2 separate regions of the Homo sapiens genome follow, and region 2 is linked to region 1. A link means that fine-mapping ties the variant in region 1 to the expression of a gene that starts in the linked region. Tissue or cell type: whole blood. Region 1 holds a variant in brackets; the other region holds the start of a gene. All regions are shown on one strand. Distances are between the middles of the regions.

Region 1 (8,000 bases):
TGAGGGTCTTTAGAATCCTGGTGCCTGGCTCCCACCCCTAGACATTCTGATGTCATTGGTGTGGAGTGTGACCTGGGCCTCTGCGTTTAAAAAAAAAAAAAAAACTCCAAAGGTGATTGAGTTGGCAGCAAAGTTTGGGACCCACTGCCTTAAGGTCATGGATTAGTCAGTTTGGCAGTTCCCTAAAGGAAGTTATTAGGCTTTTGAAAAGAAATGTCTAGTTCATCCTGACTAATCCTGAAAAGAAATGACAAATTCTTAGGAACACACCTAACTTCCCCTGAGAGCACCTCTTCCTTATTAGATTCTAAGTTTGGTATTTATTGTTTTTTTTAAGAAAAACTCAGAGTGTCTTTTAACTCCAGCTGCACCCAGCCACCTGCAGCTACTAAGGTGAGCCATGCTCTCTCATGCTTCCCTGCTCTTACTCATGTTCTTATTCAGCACTGTGCACTAGCAGGCTATGAATATTTGCTGAATAAATACATAATAACTGAATGAAGGAAGGAAGGAAGGAATGTCTTTCCCACTTCTTTGGATAATGCCAGATTGAAGCACTCTCAGCTGAGAGCGTTGCGGGCTCCTAACAGCCAGCAGAAGCCACACTCCCTCTAAACAAACAGGCAACCACTGCCAGGTCCTGCCAGGCCCTTCCAAGGTGAAACTCAGAGGCTTGATTTAGCTTCTTCACCCTCTAAATGGGCACACACACACACTACACACACTAACTTGACACTTCCCCTGTAAGGTGATTATTGACATGAGTGTTTGATTATTGACATGAGTGTTTCACCTGATTCTGGAGTCCCTAGAACAGAGAATGGATCTAGTACGTGGGTGTTGAGGAAACAATGTGATTTAAGGAGGAAAGAAGGAAAAACATGAAAAGACTGGGTCTAAGGGAGAACAAAAAACATTTACTCCTGGCTCCCAAGCCAAGTTCTGTATTAATAATTTTATATGCCTTTATCTCATTTAGTCTACCGAATGACCCATGAACCAGGGTCATAAACTCCTCATTCTTAGAAATATATTGAAAATACACCTTATTTCAAAAGCATGACTTAGGACACAGAAGGATCATTTAACTTGAAATAATGTACTAAAAGCAAGTAATAAGGATTGATTTGAAGAGGCTTGCCATTAAAAGCATCTTGTATAGACAGCTCAGAGTGATTATAATTAATATTTTCTAACGGCATTCCAAAACAGGCTAGATAAGGCATTTTAACTTCACATTGTTCCTAAGTGAGCAAATTATAGCAAAGATGCCCAGAGTAGCACCATGTAGTTATTTTTCTTTAAATTAAAATCACCATTTTAAAACCATCTTCTTTTCTTTCAAATCCTTCTTGCTGCTGTTAAGAGCCCAGATGCCTTACCCTTGTCGTGAATTCTAGAGGAAAAACTCCTTAGTTCTATTTAGTTGCTGGTTAATGGAAGAAGAACCTCATCTTCTTCCACCATTTCTCATCATGCAGCAATTTATTTATTTATTTGTTTGTTTGTTTGTTTGTTTGACAGTCTCTTGCTCTGTTGCTCTGGCTGGAGTGCAGTGGCGCATCTCAGCTCACTGCAACCTCCACCTCCCTGCTTCCAGCGATTCTCATGCCTCAGCCTCCCAAGTAGCTGGGACTACAGGCATGCACCACCACACCTGGCTAATTTTTTGTATTTTTAGTAGAAATGGGGTTTCAACACGTTGGCCAGGATGGTCAAACTCCTAGCCTCAAGGGATCCGTCTGCTTCAGCCTCCCAAAGTGCTGGGATTACAGGTGTGAGCCACTGTGCCTGGCCGTAGCAAATCATAAACATAAAATGTTTTAATCATACATTTCGCATCTCTTGACTGGGCTCATTCTTCCTTTTCAGAATTATCTTCCCTCCCTAAGGGCCTAGTCCTTCAAAGCTCATCTGAAATGTCACCTCCTCTGGGAGTCTTCCTGGATTTTCACCCAGTGTTAATTGCTCCTTCCCTCTTCTTTGTCCCCCAAATACCTAATAATAATTACAAATCTTCTACAAGAGCTTTGGATAGGCAAACCCTTGTTTATTTTGTCTTTACAGAATCTGGTATATAGTAGGTACTCAGAAAATGCTGGAAATAGACCTCTCTATGTTCCTGAACTGTCATCTAAGCTATAACAAATTTATGCAGGTGTTTGATAAAGGCTCCTATTGTATTAAACTACTGTTCTACCTATAATAAGCCTTTCTCTCATACACACACACACACCATACTGAGCTAGAATGATCTTTCTAACACCTAAATCTTCTTTACTCAAACCTTCAGTAGCTCTCTAGGGCCCTCAATATGAAGTCCAAGCTTCTCAGTCGCGTTGACATGGCAAGGCCCACCCTTGCTGAACCTAGCTGTCCACATATTCTGTACTCCACTTAAAGCAGGAAACATTGCTGAAGGAAACACAGAAATTAAAAGTGATTTCACTTTAAAGTTAAGACCACAAACTTCAAATGTATCCTCAAGGTTGCCCAGCAATCCTTTGCATCCCTGGAATATTTGTTTTCTCAGGATCCAAAATGACCATTTCACACGTATCCCTCTTTCCTCAAACTTCTAATGCCCCTACACCTTGCATTAGCTCATGACCTACTTTCTACTTTAAGAAAATAGCATCAATCAGACAGAACTCCCTTAACCAGCAAGCTGCCATATTCTCTGCCTTCACTCTTATTATTTCCTGATGAGAAAAAAAGTGGTAGGTAGTGAAGTCAGGAGTAGCCAGAGGTCAGACCCATTATCAGGCCACAGTCAGGATTTTGGATTTCATTTTATTTTTATTTATTTATTTATTTTGAGAGAGAGAGTTTTGTTCTTGTTGCCCTGGCTGGAGGGCAATGGCACTATCTCGGCTCACCGCAGCCTCCGCCTCTCAGGTTCCAGTGATTCTCCTGCCTCAGCCTCCTGAGTAGATGGGATTATAGGCATGTGCCACCACGCCTGGCTAATTTTGTATTTTTAGTATAGACGGGGTTTCTCCATGTTGGTCAGGCTGGCCTCCAACTCCCAACTACAGGTGATCCGCCTGCCTCGGCCTCCCAAAGTGCTGGGATTACAGGTGTGAGCCACTGCACCCAGCCTGGATTTCATTTTAAATGTGTTAAGAAGCCAGAGTGTGAGGCCGGGTGCAATGGCTCACGGCTGAAATCCCAACACTTTGGGAGGCGGAGGCAGGTGGATTACGAGGTCAGGAGTGCGAGGCCAGCCTGGCCAACATGGTGAAACCCCGTCTCTACTAAAAATACAAAAATTAGCTGGGCATGGTGGTGGGCGCCTGTAATCTCAGCTACTCAGGAGGTTGAGGCAGGAGAATCGCTTGAACCCAGGAGACGGAAGTTGCGGTGAGCCGAGATCATGCCATTGTACTCCAGCCTGGACAACAAGAGCAAGACTCCGTCTCAAAAAAACAAAAACAAAAACAAAAAAGACAGTGTGAAGAGAAGAGAAGGAAATGATTGTTGTACATTCAAAGAATTGCTGTTATGTGGAGAATAGTGAAG[T/G]CCAACTTCACTTGTGTATGGATTCTCATCTTTTATTTCCTTCTTAATATTAATGAACATCACTCTTGAAGTTAGCCTCCCTCTCTGGCATCATCAATTGCTTGTTCTCTACCTGATCATTTACATCATCATACAAATGCATTGTTGTTTTACCATTTTAAAAAAGCCTCCCGACCTGGTGCAGTAACTTACACTTGTAATCCCAGCATGTTGGGAGGCTGAGGCAGGAGGATTGCTTCAGGCCAGCAGTTCAAGACTAGTGTGTACAACATAGCAAGACCTTGTCTCTACAAAAAAAATTATAAAAGTCAGCCAGGTGTGGTGGTACCTGCCTGTAGTCCTAGCTACTTGGAAAGCTGAGGTGGGAGGATCACTTGAGCCCAGGAGTTTGAGGCTGCAGTAAGCCATGATCATGCCACTGCTCTTCAGCCTGGATGACAGAGCAAAACTGTTCCCAAAAAGAAAGAAAAGGCTCTCATGATCCCATGTGCCCCAACCCTTGCAGTTACCACCACCCCATTTCATTGCTCTCCTTCACACACACACACAAAGCTTTTCTGAAAGAGTTCTTTGTACCTTGAAGAAGAATAAAGTAGGGTAGGGAAGTCAGGAAAGATCTCAGAATGTGATGCTTGAGCAGAGCCCACAGTGCTATGAGGGAACAGGCCATGAGAGTACCTAGGGAAGAAATCTTTCTAAGCAGAGGAAAGAGGAGGTACTTGTGAAAGCTGATCATAAAATTGGGTCATTCTTGTCATTCCCAATTAAATCAGAGCCAAGGGGCTAGGGGGAAAAGCACTCAGGGTACAAAACATTGCTCCAAGAATGTAATTCTCTGCAAGCCTGACTGCTGAAACTGCCTGTTGTAACCTGAGACCAGCTTTATCTATAAATGCTAAGAGAACTTGCTGAAACTCTAGGACTAATTTTGCCCACTGCCATCACTCACCAGAGCTTGCTAGCTCCCCAAACCCTAACTAGTCCCAAAGAACTTTCTTGAAGAGCAATATGTAACAGCTCTCCTGTTTCTAAAACCTCTAACCTTCTCTTTGTTCTTCAGACATACTGAAGACCACCCTGTCTGCATATATGCCCCAAATTGCTATTCTTTCTTTCCAAATAAAAAATTTTAATTTAGAGACTTGTCTCACATTTTTATTCTGGCTTCAACATACTAAAGCCCTAAGCTAGGAGTCTGCTTGACTTATCCAAGAATCCACAAAGTAACCAGTATGTCTAAAGCCTAATGAGTGAGAAAAAAAGTGGTAGGAAGTGAGGTCAGAGGAATAGCCAGGGGTCACATCCATCATCAGGCCATAGTCAGGATTTTGGATTTCATTTTAAATGTGGTAAGATGCCAGAGTGTGAAGAGAAGAGAAGGAAATGATTGTTGTATGATAAAATAATTGCTCAGTTGTGTGGAAAATAGGCTAAGGAGGGCAGGGACTTAAAAGTGGAGATATGGCCGGGCTCGGTGGCTCATGTCTGTAATCCCAGCACTTCAGGAGGCTGAGGCGGGCGGATCACGAGGTCAGGAGATTGAGATGAGCCTGGCTAACACAGTGAAACCCCATCTCTACTAAAAATACAAAAAATTAACCGGGCGTGGTAGCAGGCGCCTGTAGTCCCAGCTACTGGGGAGGCTGAGGCAGGAGAATGGCGTGAACCCGGGAGGCGGAGTTTGCAGTGAGCCGAGATCCCACCACTGCACTCCAGCCCGGGCGACACAGTGAGACTCCATCTCAAAAAGAAAAAAAAAAAAAAAAAAAGTGGAGATATGGAGATATACAGACCTGCTAGGAAGTTACTGTCCTGGTCCAAGCTAGAGATGATAAAGGCTGATTAGTGAGGTTAAAAAATACATTTGAAGGTAAAGCTAATTGCACAGATATATGTTGTACAGTTGTACAGATGGATGGAATAAGAGATGTAAGAGAAAGAGAATCAATGATAACGCTAGATTTCTGGCTTTAGCAATGGGGTAAATAATAGCACTCTTCAATGAAAAGCAGGAACACCCAGAGAGGAGGAAGAAAGATGGGAGGTGGGGGAAAACAATAGTTTGGGACAAATCCATAGTATGGGTTAACAGATCTATTATTATCCAAATGGAGAGGTTGACTAAGCAGTTGGATATGTAAGTATGGAGTTCAAGGGAGAAGTCAAGGCTAGAAATAAACATTTGGTGTCAAACATAAAAGATATTTAATACCATGTGTATTAGTCACAGCTCTTCAGAGAAACAGAACCAATAGGATACATGTATATATAGAGAGATTTTTTTCTTTTCTTTTTTTTAAAGAATTGACTCACACAGTTGTGAGGGCTGATAAGTCTGAAAACTCCAAGGCTGGCTGATAGGCTGGAAATTCAAGCAGGCATTGATGTGGCAATCTTGAGACTAACGGTGGTCTGGGTGCAGAATTGCTTCCTCTTTGGGAAACCTCCATCTTTTCTCTAAGGTCTTCAACTAATTGGATGAAGCCCATCCACATTATGGAGGGTCACTAGCTTTACTCAAAGCCTACTGATTTCATTGTAAGTCACATCTAAAAAATACCTTCACAGCAACATCTATGCTTTTATCTGCCAAACAACTGGGCACCGTATGCTAGCCAAGTTGACACATAAAATTAACTGTCACTCCATGGGACTAGATGAAATTACCCAGGAGTTAATGTATTTAGAGAAATAAAGATGGCCCAGGACAGAGCCCTGGCACGCTCAAACTGCAAAAGGGGAAAAGAACCCAGCAATGGAGCCTAAGAAGGAGCTGGCAGGAGGTAGGAGGAAAACCAAGACTGTGTGGTGTCTCAGAAGCCAATGAAGAAGTGCTCCAAAAAGGAAGATCAACTATTTCAAGCACTGCCAAGAAATCCTATAAGGTAAGGGCTGAGTCATGGAGGTCACTTATGAAAATGGTGGTAGGTAAGAAATCCTAATTAGAAGAAGTTCAGCAAGAAACAGAAAATAAGGAAATGGAGGGAGTAAGTATAGGCAACTCTTAAAGGGGTTTTGCTATAAAAACAAAACAAAACAAAACAACAATAGGAAAGGAGCTAAAGAGGGATGTAGGATAGAGGAATTTTTTTTTTTTTTTTTTTTTGAGACAGAGTCTCACTCTGTCACCCAGGCTGGAGTGCAGAGGCACGATCTCAGCTCATTGCAACCTCTGCCTCCTGGGTTCAAGCAATTCTCCTGCCTCAGCCTCTCGAGTAGCTGGGACTACAGGTGCATGCCACCACACCCAGCTAATTTTTGTATTTTCAGTAGAGAGAGGGTTTCACCATGTTGGCCAGGCTGGTCTTCAACTCCTGACTTCGTGATCCACCCTCCTCGGCCTCCCAAAGTGCTGGGATTACAGGGGTGAGCCACCGTGCCTGGCCAGACTTTTTGGTTTTTTTGGTTTGTCTAAGAAGGAAATTATTACAGCATGTTTTTATGCTAAAGGAATAATCCAGTAGAGGGAACTTTGGCAATTTCCAAAGAAGGAGCAAAAAGAGATAATTGCAGAACCAAAGTCTGTTGAATATACCCTTATTATGCAGTGTAGACTTTGAAGTCAAATCCAGGTTCTATTACTAACTGCAAAGCCAAGTTACTAAGCCTCTCTGCTTCTTCATCTTCTTTCTACAAGGCCCTTTGTGGTCCTTCCACCCCTTCATCTCACCCAAACTTCTCCTCAATCCCCATGATTCAGTCATTAGCTTGCTTTCAGTCCCTGTAATTACTGTCCTCCCTCCCACCACAGGGCTTTGCTAACTTCCAAGCATTGAGCAAATCTAGTTTGAACAGGTTTTCCTTGGGAAAACCAACAGAGAAGTCAAATCCCCCTATGAAATGTTCTCATGTTACCATCTATTCTTTCTGCCTAGTACTTACTACAATTGCAATCATACTTTTATGAGTATTTGATCAATGTCCACCTCCCTCACTCTAGAATAGCACAGTCCAAGAGGACTTTCTGTGGTGATGAAAATATTCTAAATCTACACTGTCCAACCCAATAGCCACTCACCACATGTGACTATTAAGTACATAAAAGATGGCTAGTACAGGTGTGGATGTGAAGTTCTAATGTTATTTAAGTTTAATTAATATAGATGTACATAGCCACATGTGAGCAGGGACCAGGATTAGTTATGCTCACCATCATGTTCCCAGCACTTAATATAGTATGCACACATAGTAATTGATCAATAAATAATTGTTGAGAGATTAAATCTGTAAAAATGCAGATATTACTTAGTTAATTTGTATATTCCATCTTTTTCACAGAGAAAAGGAGAAAAAAAAGCTTTTACAAGGTAAATGTTAGGGGGTCCTCAGTTTTATAAAGGTAATTTGGCCTTTAAGAATTTGATCAGAGGCTGGGTGCGGTGGCTCACGCCTGTAATCCCAACACTTTGGGAGGCCGAGGCGGGCGGATCACGAGGTCAGGAGATCAAGACCAGCCTGGCCAACGTGGTGAAACCCTG
Region 2 (9,540 bases), 19 kb before region 1:
ATGACTGCTACTATAAATCAAAGGATACTAGACACTAGCAAGGGTCAGCGCTCTTTCATATGTGAAAGGAGTAACTAATTTAGAAAATAATTTGCCAAGTTTCATGAGAAAGTTCTATTTTTGCTAAAACCTCTACTCTATTATTGGTGAAGAACCTCATCTCCATACATGAAAAATCCTTCCTCTCAGTCTTGGTGTCATTTGTTGAGTCTTTGGATTTCCCTTTCCTGTACCACTAGACTTACTAGGAAAGTTTGCCACTGCTATGCATAACAGATACCTAAACATTTGCCAAAGTATTGTTTAATGGCAAAATTCCACGACTACCAAAAATTAAGCTCCTATAGGGATCAAGGGGAAGAAAGCTTATGGGTATGCTTACTGCACCTTCTCAAGTTACTTTCTTAATGACCCAAACTTTTGGCAATAATCTCCAAATAAGGTTGTAATTTATGCAACGGAAAGAAAAAAGCCTTTATGGCTTTACACTAAGTGAAGAACATCCAGATAAACTAACATGTTTTAGTTTCAGCAAGGTCAGTTTCCTGGCATTTAAAGCCCTATTAAGAAATGCAAAATTTGGCTCACACTTGTAATCCCAGCATTTCCGGAGGCCGAGGCGGGTGGATCACTTGGGGCCAGGTGTTCGAGACCAGCCTGGCTACCATGGCGAAACTCTGTTCCTACTAAAAATACAAGTATTTGCTGGGTGTGATGGCACACACCTGTAATCCCGGCTACTTGGGAGGCTGAGGCACAAGAATCGCCTGAACCCCGCAGGCAGAGGTTGCAGTGGGCCGAGATTGCACCACTGCACCCCAGCCTGGGCAAGAGTGATACTCTGTCTCGAGGGGGAAAAAAAAAGATAGAAATGCAAAATTAAAGTGGGACAAATATTCAAAGTTGTTACATGATGAAAAAGCGTAGATTGTGAAGGACATTCTATGTACTAGCAAAGACCACAAAGGGACACTAGGGGCCAGAGAAGAAATTCAGTAGATAAAAACTACAACTGGATAGCAAGATCTTGTGTTCAATGTATAATAGTTTGACAAAAACATCTTCTCAGGATATTAATAGATGAAGTTATTCAATTGTTGCCCAGCTTATCAAATATAATAGTTTTTCCATAAATCTAATGGTCCTCTCGTGCCTAACTTCTAACAATTCCATGCATTTGACCTTGCTATTCTCTTGCCTAGAATGCCTTTTCCTTCTTCGTGTTTCTACTCACCTTTCACCCTTAGCTGATACCTCAACTACTACAGCAGAGACACTACTTTTGCTGAGTACAATAACAGAAATTGTTTAGAATATGGATACTCACTCATAAATCCTAAGTCTTCCTTGCAATGACTTTTTTAGTCTTAATGTTGCATATTCACTGCCTTACAGACAGGTTTTTTTTTTTAACTTTTGTTTTTTACCCACTCTTTGCCCAACCTGGTTAGGAACCCTTTCTGGGATTCTCTTGGTTCCCTATGACAGAGAAAGCAACGCATCACAGAGCATCATCACTGATTTTCGTAAATTATTATGTTTTGCAAATTATCAAATATCCCTTAATTTGGTATCCAAAACTTGTTTTTATTAATAGTCTTAAAGGGCATTCAATAAAACGTTCCCATAAATATGCCAGTGAATTTGTTTTAATAACAGAAGATCATGACCTTATAAATTACTAAGAAAAATATGCTGCACAGTAAAACAATGTCTGATGTTCTTGAAAATACTTTTTCACTTTACAAGAGATACAATATGTGCTTCAGTTTACATTTTACTCTCCATCTAACTTCAGAAAAAAAACACAAAAAGGATGCTATACTAAGAAATCTTTAGTATGAGGAGTATGTAATCATAGCCTCAGAAATTTCAAAAGCTGCCACAATGTTTTTCCACTCCTGTAAAGTCAAAGATATAACTCCCTGTTTCCTGCCATGGCAACTGGAATCATTTCCCTCACCCATTTGGTTAACATTCATCGGCTCTAATATTGGCAGCCTGTCTTCATCAAGCCTTATTCTTGCAAAACCATCTCTTACAATAAAAGAAACATAAAATATATTCTCCACAGTACGAGAAAAAGAGTTTGGATCAATCACAAACTCAAAATAGGACACAGGAGTATCAGGATACTTTCGAAAGTAGGTTTGCAACAATCCCAAAATCCTTTCTACGTTTTTTTCTGTCGCTTCTGGATAACTACTCAGGTCCAACTTCTGCAACTTTGTAGGCATGTTGCCATTTTCTTCCATCTTGCGAACTTTTTTCTGGTGTTCAAGTCGGGGCTTTGGTGCAGAACGTTCTAGCTTGAATGAACCAAAAACAAAATGGAATGTCTCAGCTTTTACCATCCAGGATGTTGCTTCCTTTTCTATTGCCTTCCAGAAGGAAAGAGCTATGCTATCATCACAATCACTCAACTTGTCAGGATCGCCTTCCATCCAATTCAGACCCACGAACAGAAACAGAAAGTCACAAAATGCTAACTGATTAAAGAAGTTCATATCTGAGTTTAACTGCTTTGCCTTTTCTTTACCCAAATCAGAAGCCATAACAAGAAACCGGGCGTCGAGGGCTGCTTCTCTGGTTCGGCTCACGCCATCAAAGAGGACGTTGGCTTCCTCCAGAGCCTCGGTTAAGGAGTTGTTCGCCGAGCTCACGATGTCCTCCCGGTTCTGCCGCACGCAGTACATGAGCTGCCGGTACTGCCTGCGGATGCTGCGGCACTTCTCCTCGTCAGCGGTGAGCTCCAGGAGCTTTGGGTCTACGTCGGCCTCCCCAGAGCTGAGGTCGTCGGAGCAGCCCGCGGCCCTCACTGACACATCCATCTTCATCAGCGCTCCCTCCGCCGCCGCCTACTTCGCCGCGTACTCGCTACCGGGGATGATCACGAGCTGCTCCTCTCCTTTCTCTTCGTCTCCCTTCCGGGAAGCTTTTTCAACCAACATGCCGGCCACGGGTATCTCTGAGGTAACGGCCCTCCCAGCGTGTGGAAAGTGGCGGCAGTTAGAGCCGAGGACGCCCGCCCATGCGCACTAGCGGCCCGGCCCGGCGCGACCCGCCCCCAGCACGCTCCGCGGGAAGACAGCCCCGCCCCGGCCCGGCCCAGCCACAAGCCGAGGCGCTCGCTCATAGACCAGCGCGGCGCTCCCAACACGCGCAATGATGGGCCCTGACCTCACACGCGACTAATGCCCGCTCAGGGGACAGCTATTCTTTTTCAAAGCGTTTACCGACTGGATCACCTCACTTTAAAAAAAAACACTTTTGGACAACTTTACACAAAACTATTGAGGAGACTAAAGGTCCTGCGCTTTAAAACGCTCGCTGCCATCATATACTGCAGTGAGGTCGACCTGGTTTTGGTTTTTTGTGAACTAAATCTGGCTGGACTGTAAACCGTCGGTAAGGCCAAGGACCGTGAAAAGCAGAAACTCCATTAAGCAGGCTAAACTCTCAGTTCTTTTGCAAGGTGGTGTTTGGACTCATTATACAAATGTAAATCGGGTTAATTACTTTCACATGTCCTCTTAAAAACCAAGCCCCCTCCAATACCCATCCTGAGTATCTGTGGGATCGGGGGAGCCTCCAATATCCGTGCTAACCCCTGCAGGAAACTGGGTGCTGGGCACGGGCATTACTCAGGTGAACTTTGGTTCTCCACTACCCAGGAGTGGAAGAATAGAATGGGTAGAGATCTCTGCAAAAGAGCTATTTACTTGGAAGCTTGCCAACAGCTAAAGGCCACCGACACTGAATGGGTAGTAACTCTGAACCCTAAAAGGTGGGCAAAGCTATGAAAATTTCAGATACAGTCTAAGGATATGAAAGCTTAATCTGTAAACTGGGTGAGTAATCTGCGTGGGAAAATTTACCCATTGGATTTAATGGGGTCACTGGAAACTCAAGTGCAGTTAAAGACGTGACTCCTTATCTGTCTCACCAGCAGCAAATAGCAAAGTATACATAACAATGGGAATGGCCGGGCGCGGTGGCTCACGCCTGCAATCCCAGCACTTTGGGAGGCCGAGGCGGGCGGATCACGAGGTCAGGAGATCGAGACCATCTTGGCTAACCCGGTGAAACCCCGTCTCTACTAAAACTACAAAAAATTAGCCGGGCGCGGTGGCAGGCGCCTATAGTCCCAGCTACTCGGTAGGCTGAGGCAGAAGAATGGCGTGAACCCAGGAGGCGGAGTTTGCAGTGAGCCGAGATCGGGCCACTGCACTCCAGCCTGGGCTATAGAGCGAGACTCCGTCTCAAAAAAAAAAAAAAAAAAAAAGGGAATGAATACATCTGGTTTTTAAAGAGAACATGCACACAAACAACCCATGAGCATCAACAGCTTTTCAAACCTGCAACAGGTACACCTTAAAAAAAAAAAGACACCCACAATTGCACCTGTCCAATTGCCAGTTTCATAGCACCAGGAAGTAAATTAGCCCTACCTTCCTTTATGCATATAGACTTGTTCTATTTCTTTAGCATTAGCAGAAAGTTTTTTGTAAATGTATAAACAGCAAAATCTAGTAGTATTAAGTTACTCCAAAATCCTTATATTACCATTTGCTCCCAATTATTTTATTAACTAGGGGTAATTCAGGGAGATACGTGCATTTTTCAAAACACCATGCATTACGGTTAGTTGTACATATATATGATCCTACCCTATTAGATTGTTGGCTTCTCAAAAACAAAAGCTGCGTTTTAGATCTTCCAAACATAGCTGTTTTTACACGGAGATGCACTTATGTACTGAATGTATAACTTAAAATAGATTTAAAACTATCCCAGCATCTACTGCAAGTTATTTGGCAGCAAAGATTTAAGTTCACAGATTCGTGGAATTAATCCTACACACTGAAAGGAAAAGTTGACTGCTCTTCAGAAAAAGTTCTTATCCCTCTTCTAAAATAAAGGAAAAATGAAAGAAAGGTAAGTTGAGACCCAGGATCATTCAAGGATCGTATCTGTCCCTAGTCTGGCCAATTACAAACTAGTATTTGAACTTGTTTTAAATCTTAGGTGAAAATACAGTTAAGAATTCCAAGACCCAAATCCAAAAAAGTCTGCTTTTACAGTGAACGATATTCTTAGGAGCTTCTCACATCCACTTTAAATTCAACAAAAGCAGCCGGGCACGGTGGCTCACGCCTGTAATCCCAGCACTTTGGGAGGCTGAGGCGGGCGGATCACGAGGTCAGGAGATCAAGACCGTCCTGGCTAACACGGTGAAACCCCGTCTCTACTAAAAATACAAAAAATTAGCCGGGCGTGGTTGCAGGCGCCTGTAGTCCCAGCTACTCTGGAGGCTGAGGCAGGAGACTAGCCTGAACCCAGGAGACGGAGCTTGCAGTGAGCCAAGATCGCGCCACTGCACTCCAGCCTGGGCGACAGAGCGAGACTCCATCTCAAAAAAAAAATTCAACAAAAGCTACTTACAAAAGAACTCTAACAGATAAGCCAACCCTTCCCACCCTATGGTGCCTATTTTCTTCTGGCTCAGAGGAAGGAAAATAGGCTGACACCAATTTGCTACATAAAGACCCTTTCATCTAAGAATTTCAAAATGCCTTAGAAAACTATATTCTCCCAACCTGCTTATAAAGTATTACTAATACCATTTACAGGGATTTCTCAGGAGATAACAGCCCACACAACTTGCTCAGAGCAACAGAGCATATCGAGGCAAACATTAAGTTGTGATTTACAGTGCTGAATGCATTCTATGCTAGATCTCCAAGAACTTTATTAACATGTAACTTAGATCATCCTAAGAAAGGCAGACTTGCATTATGTTCCACCTTTAAAAATCTGCCTTTAGGCCAGGTGCGGTGGCTGACACCTGTAATCCCAGCACTTTGGGAGGCCGAGGTGGGTGGCTCACCTGAGGTCAGGAGTTTGAGACCAGCCTGATCAATATGGAGAAACCACGTCTCTACTAAAAATAGAAAATTAGCTGGGCGTGGTGGCACATGCCTGTAATCCCTGCTACTTCAACCTGGGAGGCAGAGGTTGCGGGTGAGACAAGATTGCACCATTGCACTCCAGCCTGGGCAACAAGAGCGAAACCCCGCCTCAAAAACAAAACAAAACAAAACAAATCTGCCTTTAGACATTGCTACAAAGTAAAACAATCTCAAGTTCAATAACTCTCCCCAATCATATAAAGAATGGGATTTCCATGCCGGTTAATCTTTAAGTCATTAAACAGTGATTTCCTAACCTAAGGTCCAAGTGCTACTAATAATTATTTAAATGAAGCTTAAAAAGAAGAAACTGCACTACTGATAAATTTGTCTGTGACCAGGAATAGAAAGCAAGAAGCGCACTGGTACTTCAAAGAAACCAGTGGCGTCTACCTTATTCCCGCAGTATAGACTAGTTCAGGCAACCATGAGACTGAGTTGCCTCAGAGATAATTTAGCTCCCCTCTTTCCCCTTTTTCCTCTTTCTTCGCTCAAGAGTTGCTACCCAGGGTTCAATACAGACCTCCATTTCCTTTCCTCTTTTCTTCACCCTTTTCTCCTATATTTTCAGTTCCTTTTCTAGGAGTTTAGGTTAATTCCAAGCATTCTTGAGCTCTTTCCCACAACCCATACTGCTCAACACAAACGTGATAGGGTGGATGACAAAGGTCACATGTCTCCCTGTAACCAAATAAAGGAAGAAGTCACGAGTCCACTATTTTTCTCCAGTGAGGTTTTGCTGTTAACACTTACCTATAACAAATGGATTTTTAAGAGACTTTTTGGAGCCAAAGCCAGGAATCAGTCAGGTTTGAGTCCCACACTCTAACATATACACTTATCCTAATAGCTACCTCCCTAAACTTTTCTGTTCCTTCTTTCATAGCAGCTTTTCTCCCTTCATACCACCATGGCTTCTGTTTAATATTGAGTTGTGAAGAAATGTGGTAAAATTCCTAGTTTGATTTGCCAGAATTAGCAGGACATTAGGTATAGTTTCTCTTTCATCTTAACTTTTTTTTTTTTTTTTTTGAGACGGAGTCTTGTTCTTGTCACCCAGGCTGGAGTGCAATGGCACGATCTCGGCTCACTGCAACCTACACCCCCCGGACTCAAGTGATTCTCCTGCCTCAGCCTCCCGAGTAGCTGGGATTACAGGCACGAGTCACCACGCCTGGCTAATTTTTGTATTCTTAGTAGAGACAGGGTTTCAGCATGTTGACCAGGCTGGTCTCGAACTCCTGACCTCGTGATCCGCCCGCCTCAGCCTCCCAAAATGCTGGGATTACATGCGTGAGCCACTGTGCCTGGCAGTTTCTCTTTCATCGTAATTTTCTTTAAAGTTATGTTTGTGTGTATATATTTTGTGTTTTGTTATTATTAAAGGTGAACTTTGCTATGATAAGACAGATATCTGTATTTTTTTTTTTAATGAAAATTAGTTTCTGAAAAGACCACAGACTGTGGGAGGGGACGATCTGGGTTCCAATCTTGACCTATTACCTATTAGTATTATCTTAGCCAGCTTGCTTAACCTCTCAGCCTCCAGTGTCTTTATTTATAAGACGGGAATACTACTGCAGTTGACCCTTGAAGGAAACAGCTTTGAATTGCACAGATCCACTTATACCAAAAGCAATAAAAAATACAGGTCTGCCTGCTCCTTAAAGAGGAAAAAGCTTGTGAGAAATAAAGAAATAAATACTGTATTTGTGAGATGTGATGTTTCACATCCGGTGAATACAGAGAGCTGACTTTCCATATATGCTGGTTCCACAGGGTGGACTTTGGGACTTGAGTATGTATGAATTTGGGTATACACAAGGGTCCTGGAACCAATCCCCTGAAGATACCGAGGGACAACTGTATTTATACCATATAATTACTACAGTGAATGAAAATTATGTAATATATCTGACAGTGTTTTCAACTACTGAGTAGGTACTTAATAAATCAAACAATCCCAAAGATAGCAAATGTAAAAAAAAAAACTGTATACAAACCAGTAGTTTCACTTCTGAATGTTGCTTTAGGAACAGAAAAAAATTTAATTTTTTTTATTTTTTATTTTTATTTTAGATAGAGTCTCGCTTGGTTGCCCAAGCTAGAGTGCAATGGTGTGATCTCAGCTCACTACAACCTCCGCCTCCCGGGTTCAAGTGATTCTCCTGACTCAGCCTCCCGAGTAGCTGGGATTACACGTGTGTGCCACCGCGCCCAGCTAAGTTTTGTATTTTTAGTAGAGATGGGGTTTCTCCATGTTGGCCAGGCTAGTCTCAAACTCCTCATCTCGTGATCCACCTGCCTCAGCCTCCCAAAGTGCTGGGATTACAGGTGTGAGCCACTGCGCCCGGCCCCAGAAAAATATTTTTAAAGGTTAAATCAGTAAGGAGGAACACAGGAATATATTCCACTATAACAAATACCAGTGAAAAGAAATTTGCCATATAACAAAATTTTAAAAACCTACGAAGGCTTCAACTATTCAAAGTGTGTACAGTAACACTTTGAAGGGTAATTCTCTGTACCAGATATTCTGAAGCAGATCCACAAATAGTCTGAGTTTATATGCAAAATTATTTATGTGCATTTTTCTCAGGAATAGCTCCTTAGATTTCAGCAGATTCTTAAGTCTAGTATCTAAAAGAGGCTTTGAATAACTGCTTTATTCAAATAAGATGGCATTATTATTGGAGAAGTAAAAGAGTCTCACTAAATAATCTGGACTCACTCATTTGAAATACTTTGGAGTAGATAAAATCTCCACCCTTGCTCTGTGGTCAAATCATATACTTAATGACACTTTAAAAACCCAGTGCTGGCTGACTTGCCAAGCCTCAAGAATATAAATAAGGGCGTGAGATGAAAAGAACAACCTTTCAGGTTACGAGAGCCTCCACAACACCTCAAAAGGCAGCAATGACTAGGAGTGTTATTTTGATAGACAGGGAGGGTAAGAAGGACTGGGTATGTGGCTACTAAAGGATGCAGCATTCTAGGAACTCCACTCAGGGATCAAATGAAAAATATCTGCATTATTAGTTTCCACTTACTTTCTTCGAAAATTGTAACAGAAGTCTATCAGATGTCTCACTCTGCCATACAGAGTGGTTGTCATCATTAAAAACAAAATCAGGCCGGGCATGGTAGCTTACACCTGTAATCTCAGCACTTTTGGAGGCTGACGCAGGCGGATCACCTGAGGTCAGGAGTTCGAGACCAGCCTGACCAACATAGAGAAATCTTGTCTCTACTAAAAATACAAAATTAGCCAGACGTGGTGGCGCATGCCTGCAATCCCAGCTACTCGGGAGACTGAGGCAGGAGAATTGCTTGAACTCAGGAGGCGGAGATTGCAGTGAACTGAGATCACACAGTGCACTCCAGCCTGGGCAACAGAGCAAGACTCCATTTCAAAAACTAAATAAATAAATAAATAAATATAAATTTATTTGTCAACAAGTGTTTGTATATTACTTTTTTTTTTTTTTTTTGAGATGGAGTTTCACTCTTGTTGCCCAGGCTGGAGTGCAATGGCAGGATCTCCGCTCACCGCAACCTCCACCTC

What was found.
Region 2: EID3 starts here. The variant in region 1 is fine-mapped to the expression of EID3 in whole blood (TOPMed, PIP above 0.99).

Annotation. Positions count from the first base shown.
Region 1 is chr12:104,278,691-104,286,690 of GRCh38, reverse strand. The region is part of intron 3 of TXNRD1 (thioredoxin reductase 1); the gene reads right to left. TXNRD1-AS1 (TXNRD1 antisense RNA 1) reads left to right here and starts at 5,848. Exons shown (of 2, transcript XR_007063431.1): 1 at 5,848-6,407. RefSeq lists an enhancer at 1-458 and a silencer at 4,326-4,620. The variant T/G (reference allele first, on the strand shown) is at 3,523.
Region 2 is chr12:104,297,232-104,306,771 of GRCh38, reverse strand. EID3 (EP300 interacting inhibitor of differentiation 3) reads right to left here and starts at 3,033. Exons shown (of 1, transcript NM_001008394.3): 1 at 1,567-3,033. The coding sequence starts at 2,837. The coding sequence ends at 1,836. All of the region lies in intron 4 of TXNRD1 (thioredoxin reductase 1), which reads right to left. RefSeq lists enhancers at 2,596-2,655, 2,686-2,925, 2,233-3,105, 4,897-5,066, 5,605-5,774 and a silencer at 2,966-3,195.